3 linked regions of the Homo sapiens genome follow. The protein of the gene in region 1 purifies or fractionates together with the protein of each later gene. This does not show direct contact. Each region holds a gene or a part of one and is shown in the gene's direction. Other genes may lie near its edges.

What was found.
Region 2: the proteins of TAF5L (region 1) and RAP2A purify together in Homo sapiens (co-immunoprecipitation; one large-scale study listed by IntAct). This does not show direct contact.
Region 3: the proteins of TAF5L (region 1) and KAT14 purify together in Homo sapiens (affinity purification with mass spectrometry, with the first as the bait; one large-scale study listed by BioGRID). This does not show direct contact.

The regions. Positions count from the first base shown.
Region 1 is NC_000001.11:229,609,073-229,612,730, reverse strand, and holds part of TAF5L (TAF5-like RNA polymerase II p300/CBP-associated factor-associated factor 65 kDa subunit 5L), read left to right. Parts: intron 1-2,520; coding exon 2,521-2,625; intron 2,626-3,658. UniProt on the Homo sapiens protein: Functions as a component of the PCAF complex. The PCAF complex is capable of efficiently acetylating histones in a nucleosomal context. The PCAF complex could be considered as the human version of the yeast SAGA complex.
Region 2 is NC_000013.11:97,440,660-97,444,317, forward strand, and holds part of RAP2A (ras-related protein Rap-2a), read left to right. Parts: intron 1-3,658. UniProt on the Homo sapiens protein: Small GTP-binding protein which cycles between a GDP-bound inactive and a GTP-bound active form. In its active form interacts with and regulates several effectors including MAP4K4, MINK1 and TNIK.
Region 3 is NC_000020.11:18,185,554-18,188,548, forward strand, and holds the end of KAT14 (cysteine-rich protein 2-binding protein), read left to right. Parts: intron 1-1,732; coding exon 1,733-1,906; 3' UTR 1,907-2,482; downstream 2,483-2,995. UniProt on the Homo sapiens protein: Component of the ATAC complex, a complex with histone acetyltransferase activity on histones H3 and H4. May function as a scaffold for the ATAC complex to promote ATAC complex stability. Has also weak histone acetyltransferase activity toward histone H4.

The DNA.
Region 1 (3,658 bases):
GGACCCAGGGTTCATTGCCATAGGAAGAGAGTGCTAGGACAGTAACAACCTGAGGATGCTCTCAAAGGAGTGGTTCCTGACTTCCTCTGAAACACTAACAGAAGCCCAGTCAGCAGCCTGCCATCACGTATTTCAGGGTTGGATCCACCCATTATTCCTTGCCTTCAAACTCCTCAGAGATACCCTTGACCAAAACAGGGCCAGATGATGGCCTTGGTATAGAATACTAAGTGCCTTATTGTTTGAATAGGGGAGTCCATTTACAAGGCCTCTGTCCCATTGTAGAGTAATTCCTTCTGAACATGCCATCCTAGCCATTTAAAAAATCTGCTGCCCTGCATCCTTTGGAACCAGAGAGCAGTAATTCTTGCTGTTGTTGATAGAAAGTAGGAATGAACAATATTAAACAGACTTCCAGAACTTTGCTCGTCTAAGTTGTCTTAGTTTCAATAGAATAGCTTATTAGGAGAAAGTGTTATTGCTGGAAAACCACCAGGAAAAGTGAGAAACATGAAATATGATTATCAGAAGATTTTGTCCTAGATTTTTCCATTAATTGAGTAATCTGAAGAATTCTTTTTTCAGCAGACATTTAGTGAACATCTGCTATAGGCCAAGTGCTGAAAAGTTCTAGAGATAGCTACGATTTGACCCTAGCTCTGAGAAGCTAAGTGTTCTAATTGGGAAGTGAGGCAGGTAAGTCAGTGATTGTAGAAGAGCATGAGGTAGTAAGTTCTGTGAGGGGGAGGTTCAGTGGTAGCAGAAAAGATCATCCAAATTAGGCTGGCAAGCCAAGGAAGGATCCCCAAAAGGCCTTGTGATTCCTGACATATAGTTGGGGGTCACTAAATAGTTGAAAGAGTGAGCTGAGTTGCAAAGGAACCATTAGATGTTTACCAGGGAACAAATTGGAGGAGGGTATCCAGGTTTTCAAATGTGAATTTTAGAAAACTCAGTCTGGTGGCAGTATTGATAAGGCAGCCCAGATTAGAATCGAGGAAACTAGTTAAAAGACGCAGTCCAGTGAGAAGTGAGGACAGCCTCAGTTGAGGAAGTGGTAATGGGAGTGGAGAGGAGAGGATATATTTTAGGAATCTGTAGGACTTAGTGACAGAGTAACTAAGCGGGGGGCAAGAAGAAGGAGGAGGAGTCCCTCCCTTGCATGCAGGCTTGCAGCAGGTCCTCTCTTCTGACTGTCTCTTCCTTCTCCTGGAGTAGGTTGGCTTTCCTCTCACCTGTGTTTCCCTTTCTACGTATTTCCTGTTATGGCGCCCTCAGTCCTGCCACATTCATCACCATTTCTCCATCCATATTCCATTGACAAAATGCATTCATGTTTCATTCAGGACGCGGTTAAAGGTGGCTTCCCTTGGTTTTTAGCCACCTTCTTTCCCCGGTGTTCCCCACTCCTCTTGTAAACAGGAGGAGAATGGTTTTTGTTTTTTGTTTTTAGAAAGCATAAACTCACAGATTGGAGATTAAGTGTGTGTTTACATACTGAATATTGAGACTCCAGCCTTGTTTCCCCTGCACCAATTCATATGCCCGGAATACTGCAGCCAGGCACACATGCTCCAGGAAGGCAAGTAAACAATCCTTCCCTGGTGAGTCCAACTTGCCCAAGAAGAAAGACGAAAAGACAGTGATGTTGGGACATTGCTCACCCTGGTCACCCTGGAGGATGAGCCTCACCACCCAGAGTGCCTCACCGTAAGACAGCCAGGGGCCATTGAACCCTAGAAGAAACATATCTCATAAGAAGGGCAGATGGAAAGAAACAGAAGAAAACTTCAAAAATACCTTGTTTTAAATACTTAAGATTCAAAAAGCATAGCGTGTTTAGGGGAAAAGAGAATGTTGAGAATGAAAAAAGTTACCAATTAGATACATGATAGTAAAAAATAAAAACTCATTAGGTATTATAAGTAATGTAGGGGGAAATAGTAGAAGGGCTGAAGGGTGAGGAAGGCTTTCAGAAAGTAGAGCAAAAAGACAAAGAAATGGAGTAATAGGAGAAAAAAATTAAAGGATTGGTTCAGGATATCCGACCTTGAAATTGTAGGAGTCTTGGAAGATAGGGAATTATCAAAATGATTCCAGAAAACTTCACAGAACTAGAAGACATGAATTTCCAGATTGAAAGGGCCCACTAAGTGCCCAGCACAGTGATTGACAATGAACCCACACCAAGGCACCTGTGAAATGTCAGAACATAGGATCAAACATTTCCTGATGAATCTCATGGATTGATGTACCTGTCCTCTCTCATTCACCTTATCCTGTGCTTTATGCCTTTCCTTCCCTGGCCTTCATTTTATTGGGCTTCAGGAGGGAGGGGAGAGAAACAAGTGTCATCAGTCTGTCATGTTTAACCAGGACCCAGCATGCTTTGGAAACCTGCTGAAATGTCAGTTGCTGTGCGTGTGTGCACAACACCCTCCTTCACCCATCCTGCCACGTACTGGGTTAATAATCGTCTCTCTGTTTCCCGCCCTGACTTGTGTATCTTCTCCTCTTTAGTGCAATCAGAATCTGGTTGTGCCAACATAGTGTCTGCAGCCCCTTGCCAGGCAGAACCCCAGCAATATGAAGTACAGTTTGGACGACTGCGGAATTTTCTCACTGGTAAGTACTCAGCTCTAGAACCTTTTCTTTTTAAGAAAACAGAGTAATACAGACCAACTTTGGGCACACTGCTTGTGAGTTAGCCCTGCTCCACAAGGAGCGGTAAAAAGAAAAATTAAAAAATAGAGTAATGCAGATTTCCCTCAGAACCAACTATATTCCACAATTGGTTTGAGGTACTAGGGATTCGAAGGTACTCTTAACACAGTTCTTGCATTCAAACTTATGGTCTATTGGAATTCCTGAAGAGTTCAATCACGAGGTTTAAGTTTACAAGGGCAGAGCTCTGGGTGTTTATTCACTGTTTTATTCATGGCCTTCAGCACAGTGACTTGTGACTTGTATTGAATAAGTAAAAACTGTCAGCTATGCAGAGAAGCATCCTTAAATACAGCACATTTGAAATGTACATGACATCTCTACTAATAATATAGTACATTTCACAATGGTCTTTGCCCCGTATTTCCAAAAGTGCAAGTAAATAGTCCTTATGAATGAACAGGCAAAAATGCTAGAAGTTGTCATTTAGACCAGTTTTTGAGTGGCAGAATGACCACTTGAGATAAGAATAAAAAAGATACTGTAGAACATTAGGAAGAAAAACATTAAGAGCCCCAGAAGATAAATCGGAAAGGGATGTGAACATAAAAATTTACACCAGGATAACTCACTTTAGCAATCAACCGAGTGTATTAATACTTCACTGCAAAAATCATTACAGTTCTGTAGCAATAAAATTATGCCATTGAGTTTATTTTATTATACACCTATGCTTCAGTGATTAAAAAAATACAAAAATGTATGTAATGTCATTAGGGTCATCTGAGTGTCACTCATAATAGAAATAAGTCATGACCATGACAAGAGCCATCTCACTGTCATGAGTCAGAATATACCACTATTAAAATTATACATTTGGTGATTTACTTTTGTGTCTGTTTTCCTCATTAGACTATATGCTCCATGAGGGCGGGGACCATATCAATATATCTTAGGACAATATCTATCCTGGCATGTAGTCAGCACTTAACAT
Region 2 (3,658 bases), on another chromosome or scaffold:
TATGATTGATGTACAAAAAGCCAGACATATTTAATGTGTACAACTCAGTGAGTTTAGAGATAAGCATACACTTGTGAAATCACCACAATCAATGCTGTAAAACTATCCATCACCTCCAAAAGTTTCCCCCTGCTTTATTTATCTATCCATTCATTCATTCATTCATTCATTTTTTTTGTAGTAAGAACACAACATAAGTTCTGTCTTCTTAGCAAATGTTTATACAATACAGTATTGTTAACTAGAAGTACTATTACCATACAGATGTCTGGGACTTACTTATCTTGCATAACTGAACTTCATACAGTGAATCACTTTATGTGGCCCAGAAGTTTTTCCTGAAAAGGAAACTTTTGTTTTGGCTGCATTGTAAAATTACAGGTTACAGTATATAGTTTTCTTTTTGCCACTCCAGGATTGTAATTTTTAAAGCTCAATTTGGAGTTGGAGGAGATGATGTCTCTTCCTCTCTAACATTCTGTGAGAGCACTTTTGTCTGGCCGGGGTGATGAGGGAAGGGGTCAAGTTTAATATGAACCTTAAAGAATCAGCAGCCTGTGACCCACAATTTTGTCTAGTTAAGATTTGATAATTGTATCAATAAAATCTACAATAAGGAATAATTATACTAATACTTATTTTTTAATGGAGGGCAAAAATAATTTAAATTATTAAACATTAAGGAAGAGGTAGAGGAACTAAGAAAAATCACTGGATTTCACAGCCAACAGGAAGAGCCAACAAAGTTGGAATCTATTTGCTAAAGTTTCAGTAGCAATATACTTGAGTGATTTAATTTCTGTGTGTGAAGTTCTGGGAAATTACATATGGCACAATAAGGTGCATATATTATGCATGTATATGTACATATTTTTAAGCAAGGATCTTTACATAAAACCAAGTACACTGTACTTAAGGGAATTTTTTTTCAGGGGTATTTTTTTCTTTTCAGTTCTCTTTTAGTCATTGTCTTTAGAACCTTACTGCCTAGGGGAGCATGTATGCCTTACTCTGGGGTTTTCTTTGCTTCTGTTTTGATTTTTCCCTGTTTTCTGTTTCTCTCCATCTATTCTTACCTACTGTTTTTTTACACACTTATATTTTTCAGGCCTATGTTGTAAAAAGAGTTTTAAGTACTCTAAGTTTTTTTGGAGTAATAAGAGTTTGAATACGAGCAGACTTTCAAACAAGGTAAAACTGATGGTGACTGAATAGTTACTAAAGGAAATGTATAGATATTGTGTTTATGTAGGAAATTTATCTTGAAATTTTAATGGTGTGCAGAAATATGCCATATATTATATATTGCCATTTCATTTGTTACTTTGACACTTGTGGTTCATATCATTAAAAATTATTCTCAGCCTGACAGAGAGAAGTTTAATTTCTTAAACATCCTTTCTGCTTTACCAGATCAAACTCAGCCTTTTAGTAGAGTAATATCAATAATAGTAATGCTGTAATTGTGGACATCTGCATTTCAGTCAAGTATGTTAAATAAAGCATAAATATATTAGTAAAATTTAAAGTAATCAAAATAACTAAAAACAATATTTGAAGATTCTAATACATAATCTAGCTAAGATTTTGTCATGGTATGTATTAAATTCTTTCTCTGGCATAATTGTATAGATGGGGATTTGTTTTTGTTTTTTATTTCTCTAATACATTTAAGATTTTAAAACATACCAAAATTTATATTTAGGGAGAAATAAGGTGACTTATAATTTTTATTTTTAAATTGTTATCTGTCAAAAAGCCAAATATTGGAAAAAATTAATAACTATCTCTATTTTTATAGATCCACTCAGCAGGGGATTTCACATTTTCTTAACCAGGGCCCTCAGTAAGAAGTACATTTTATATTGTGACTTAGTGCACACATAGGAATAAATACATCTAGCCGAAATCAACATTTCATAAGACAGTAAACTTGCTATGTTGCTTGTATTACTTTTTCTATTTATTTTTTTCTATTTTATTTCGTTGTTTTTAAGTGCTTTTCATGACCCACCAAATTGATTTTATCACACATAGCTTGGAAACTGCTATCCTAGGACATTTTTACTCTAAGAAAACTAAATGTAACTATCTGTTTAATATTTCATCTTCTCTCTCCTGCTTTTCTGGTTCCCAGCAATGCTGTGTAAGATTACGAAAATGAAGTACTTCCCAATGTGAGTTAGTAAATACTACCTGTAATTCAGAGAAAGATAGCATTTAGTCACTGAACAAAAAGATATAGCATATCTTTTGAGAAAGCATTTATCTCTGTTGTGCATATTAGAAATATGAGAATGTATTTCTCATGTAATGTTGTTCATTCTAGTAATTCAAGATAACTTTTGCCTTGTGAAAACTTAGAACAGAGAAAGGGAGGTTGTGGTAGTATTCAGACTTGAATACATGAGTGCGGGATTATCTATTTCAAGAACAGTTGCTGAGGAGGTTCAGAAAACTCAAAATAGAGGTCTGCTGCATCTATCCAGGATAACACTGATTCACCTCTCCCTGTAAGACAGTAAAACTATAAATATCTTAAAATCACTTAGTAAAGTTACCCAAGAGAAACATTGAAAAACCTTTATTTAAAACATTTAGGAGTGTTCTCATGCTTTCCTGACCCTTAGAAATTAATAATTCAAATGTGGAAATACTATATTAATAATTCAATGCATATTAGTATTTTCTCTACTAAGTATCTTTACAGCTCTCTCTCTGTAAATGAAATCTTAGAGTATTTTAAGAGACAGGGTCTTGTTCTGTTGCCCAGGCTGGAGTGCAGCGGCGCCATCAGAGCTTACTGCAGCCTCTAACTCCTGGGCTCAAGCAACCCTTCTGCCTCAGCCATCTGAATAGCTAGGACTACAGAGCAGGCACCACCGCATCCAAGTAATTCTTTAAAAATTTTTTCTAGAGATGGGATCTTGTTATTTTGCCCAGGCTGGTCTCAAACTCCTGGCCTCAAGTGTTCCGACTACCTCAACTGCCCAAAGCACTGGGATTACAGGCCTGAGCCACTGCCCCTGGTCCTAAATTAATTCATCTTTAGGTTTCCAATGAACATTATGAATACTGTATGTATTATAATTCTCGAATGGAGTATTTTATTGTATATACTTATCTTCTCATCCATGAAGACAGCGAATGTTAATCTCATTAAAGCTGAGATCCAGCACTTATTAGTTATGTAATTAGGAGCAAGTTGACATTCCTTGCATTTTAATTTCCTCATTTGTAATATGAGTATGATGTAGTAACTCGTGAGATAACGAACGTAAAGTGTTTCTTTACATAGTGAACCTAAAATATTAATAATAAAGTTTCACCAAGAATCACAGAAATAGGAATGAAACCCAGCCTTTTATCTGTATACTGCCACGTGACTTCTTAGGAATTAGGCTCAATTGTCTTACTATATTGAGATGAATTATATACCTAGTATAGTATAACATTTCTGTTTTTCCCATTGCTTTCTCCTCTGTGTTTTAAGTGCTCTAACACTACGTTATAGAACTTATAGCATAGACCTTGAGTGCTTTGTGTTTTTGCCTTCCCCTAGAGACCTAAATATATTGGCTATAAATGGTGGCGGTAAATTTTTTGACTCATGAGGAATTGTGATGATTTTTAGTACACATATTTTAAATATTAATAT
Region 3 (2,995 bases), on another chromosome or scaffold:
GATATGAACCTTCTAAGATTTGATTCTAGTATTGAATTATAATTCATCCTTTAATATATTTGTATCACCTTTGAAGAAAATACACCATATATCACCATCAAAAAACATGCAAGGATTTTTTTCCCCTAGAATTTTTTTTAGTCAACTTTTACTTAGAAACCATTTGGTATGGAGGATTATATGTTTATGCAGGCAAGATTCCTTTTAAAGAGGAGATGAAGATGATAAAAGTTGTTTCTCCAATTTTTAATGAAACTTGCTTAATAATTCCCAAATGTTGGCAGGAACCTTGGAACCATTTTCCTAGAAATTGCTTTCCTTCTCTCCTTAGGCAGTGATTATGTAAATCACTCACTGAGTAATTAATATGTGCTACTTTGGGTGGTGGTTTTCTCTTGAGAGCTTCTCAGTTATTTCTACAACACTCCCTTTCTCTGCCCCATCCCAACCAAGAGTTGATCTCTCAGTATGCGTCTTTTTAACCTAGGAGAGCACTTAGAGGATTTGCTGCCGTATCTGTCACTGGTAAGGGCCTGAAGACAGGGCACGAATAGTACTCTGTCCTTGTGTGTGTGTGTCCTTGGTGCCCAACATGAGGGCTGGTACAGAGTCAGTCCCTGCTGAGTGTTTGCGAGGCCACTGGAGGAGTGGTTCATCTTTGCAGGTGGGCACCTTCCCCTCCAGCCAGACCATACCCCTGAGGGCCCAAACATAGGTGGCGCACAGTCGCTGGCACTCAATGATGGCCACGGTGAGATCACGTATATTTGCAATCTAGCAAACACCAATATGACCCCACAAAATTTGCTTTAAAAACTCACAAAGTGCTCTTGTCCCTGGCATACTGGTAAGTGCTCTCTTGTCCTAAAAATGCCTATGGATACACATGGAAGTTAAGCAGAGAAAGCAGGTAGCTATCAGATGACTGTCAACAGAGGAGTTCTTAGAGGCCTGAGAGAACCATGGGTTATAAATCTCAAGGACTCTATCAACTTCAGTATTTCAGTGCCTTCTTTATTAAAAAGTAAGTTCTTAAATGATATGACTTTTGGGACACCTTACTCTGTGTAGCTGATTAAAGAATCTAAGGACTTGCCTTGTGTTGATAGAATGATTGTTACTCTTTTCCCCTAAGATTAGGTCAAAGCTGAATGTAGAAATCTCAGTTCTAAGAAGCTAATTCTGTCAGTTTTAGAGAGACAGAAGGTGGACTTTGGGATTCAGAAGGTCTATACAAGGGCCTCAGGTTTTATAATTACATTCTTAATATTTCATGTTTGTGCATGTAATTTAGCAGGCCTAGTAAAGGAATTTTTACAGGTTTTGGGGAGGTACAAGATAACATCTAGTTTTAAAAAGCAAAACTTATTTTGTTTTGTATTTATTCAAGGTTATCATAGTGTTAGGTATTGAAATGTTTGACATATTTAAAGGTAATTGAGTTGTAAATAATAAAGCTGACAATAACAATATCCCCATTGACCCTTTGCTTCAAAGAAAAATAAAAAACACCCAGAATACTATCAGTTTCCTTGGTCTTGTGAATGTTTTGATCAGCAGCAAAATGTCATTCTGTTTCCAGCTGTTGCTAGGTGTTGCAATGTCTCAGCCTCAGTCTCTGATTTCTCCGGTTTCCATAACTAACTGCCTACACTTAAAAGCGTTTCTTTACCTACTCATTTTCCCTCAGGCCTTTCCATTTTTATCTTGTATTTTTCCACTCTTTTGGCAGACCTGCATGGGCAAGGACGTAACCCTTCACGTCTCAGCAAGCAACCCCGCTATGCTACTGTACCAGAAGTTTGGATTCAAGACTGAAGAATATGTATTAGATTTCTATGATAAATATTACCCATTGGAGAGTACAGAGTGTAAACACGCATTCTTTCTGAGGCTCCGGCGCTGATGCGAATACAGCTCACAGAGAAACGCATGTGCTATTGGAGAACAGGTCTTTGTGGAGATCTAAAGGCAGTGATTGATTTCACAGGGAGCTCTAATCTCTGTGATTACATGGTCCTTCAAACTCCCAACCAAAGTGAGAAAAGCGGCATGCAGTGAAATGAGCAGTGAGCAGCCCTTTAGCAAAATCGCCCTCCAGTCCTTCCTGGAGATGCCTTCAGCCAGCATCCCAGACTCCACAGTTATTTATGAATGATGTCGTGATTCTCCCTCCACCTGACAGTTTGTAAGAGTGAAAGAGCATCTAACCTGATGCTCTTGGAGAGAGATAACCTGTCTGTCATAACTTAAAGGATGAGAAAATGTGGTGTAGCTATTAAAGATTCATGCAGTCCCAAAAGGCACTGTCCTGGGATGATGAGAGATTATAAGGTGATTTCATAAAAGGAATCCAACCCTGTGCCCGGCCATTGATGTGTTGTCATTGAATCCAGGAGGATTTCTAGGGCACTGAAGTTTTGTTGTTTCTTTTGCTGACTTTGGTTACAGTCAGAAAAAATAAACTAGATGTTTGTGTCTACATGTTCTACCTGTTGTACCTATTAGCATCTTCCTGCAGGGACTTGGGCCCATGGCCTGGGAGGTTGGTTTGGGATTGGGGTTGTTGGGCAGCCTGCCATTCACCTGGCCTATCCTGGCCCTTCTCATGCCCAAGACAGTTGTTTCACAGGAGTGGAAGTGTGGGTGATGCAAGTAGAACCCTCTAGATGTACCCTGTGTGGTCTGCAGGACTGGACTGTTTGCTGTGTTTGTGGATGTTGGCGATAGACTGTCAATTAGGTTGTTTGTGATCCAACAAGAACATTTCCAAAAGTATCTAGGTGTTCTCAAATAAAAAGCTTTCTTTGCACAACCCATGGCCAGAGCGTCAATCTAGTCAGTTTGCTTTCAAACCCTCTTTAATTAAGATCAGTGGTTCTTAACTTTTTGGGACATGGATCACTTTGAGAATACAAAGAAAGCTGAATACTCTCTAGAAAACTGTCATGCACATTTAAAATTTTGCATCAGGGATCTGTCGACCACAAGTTAA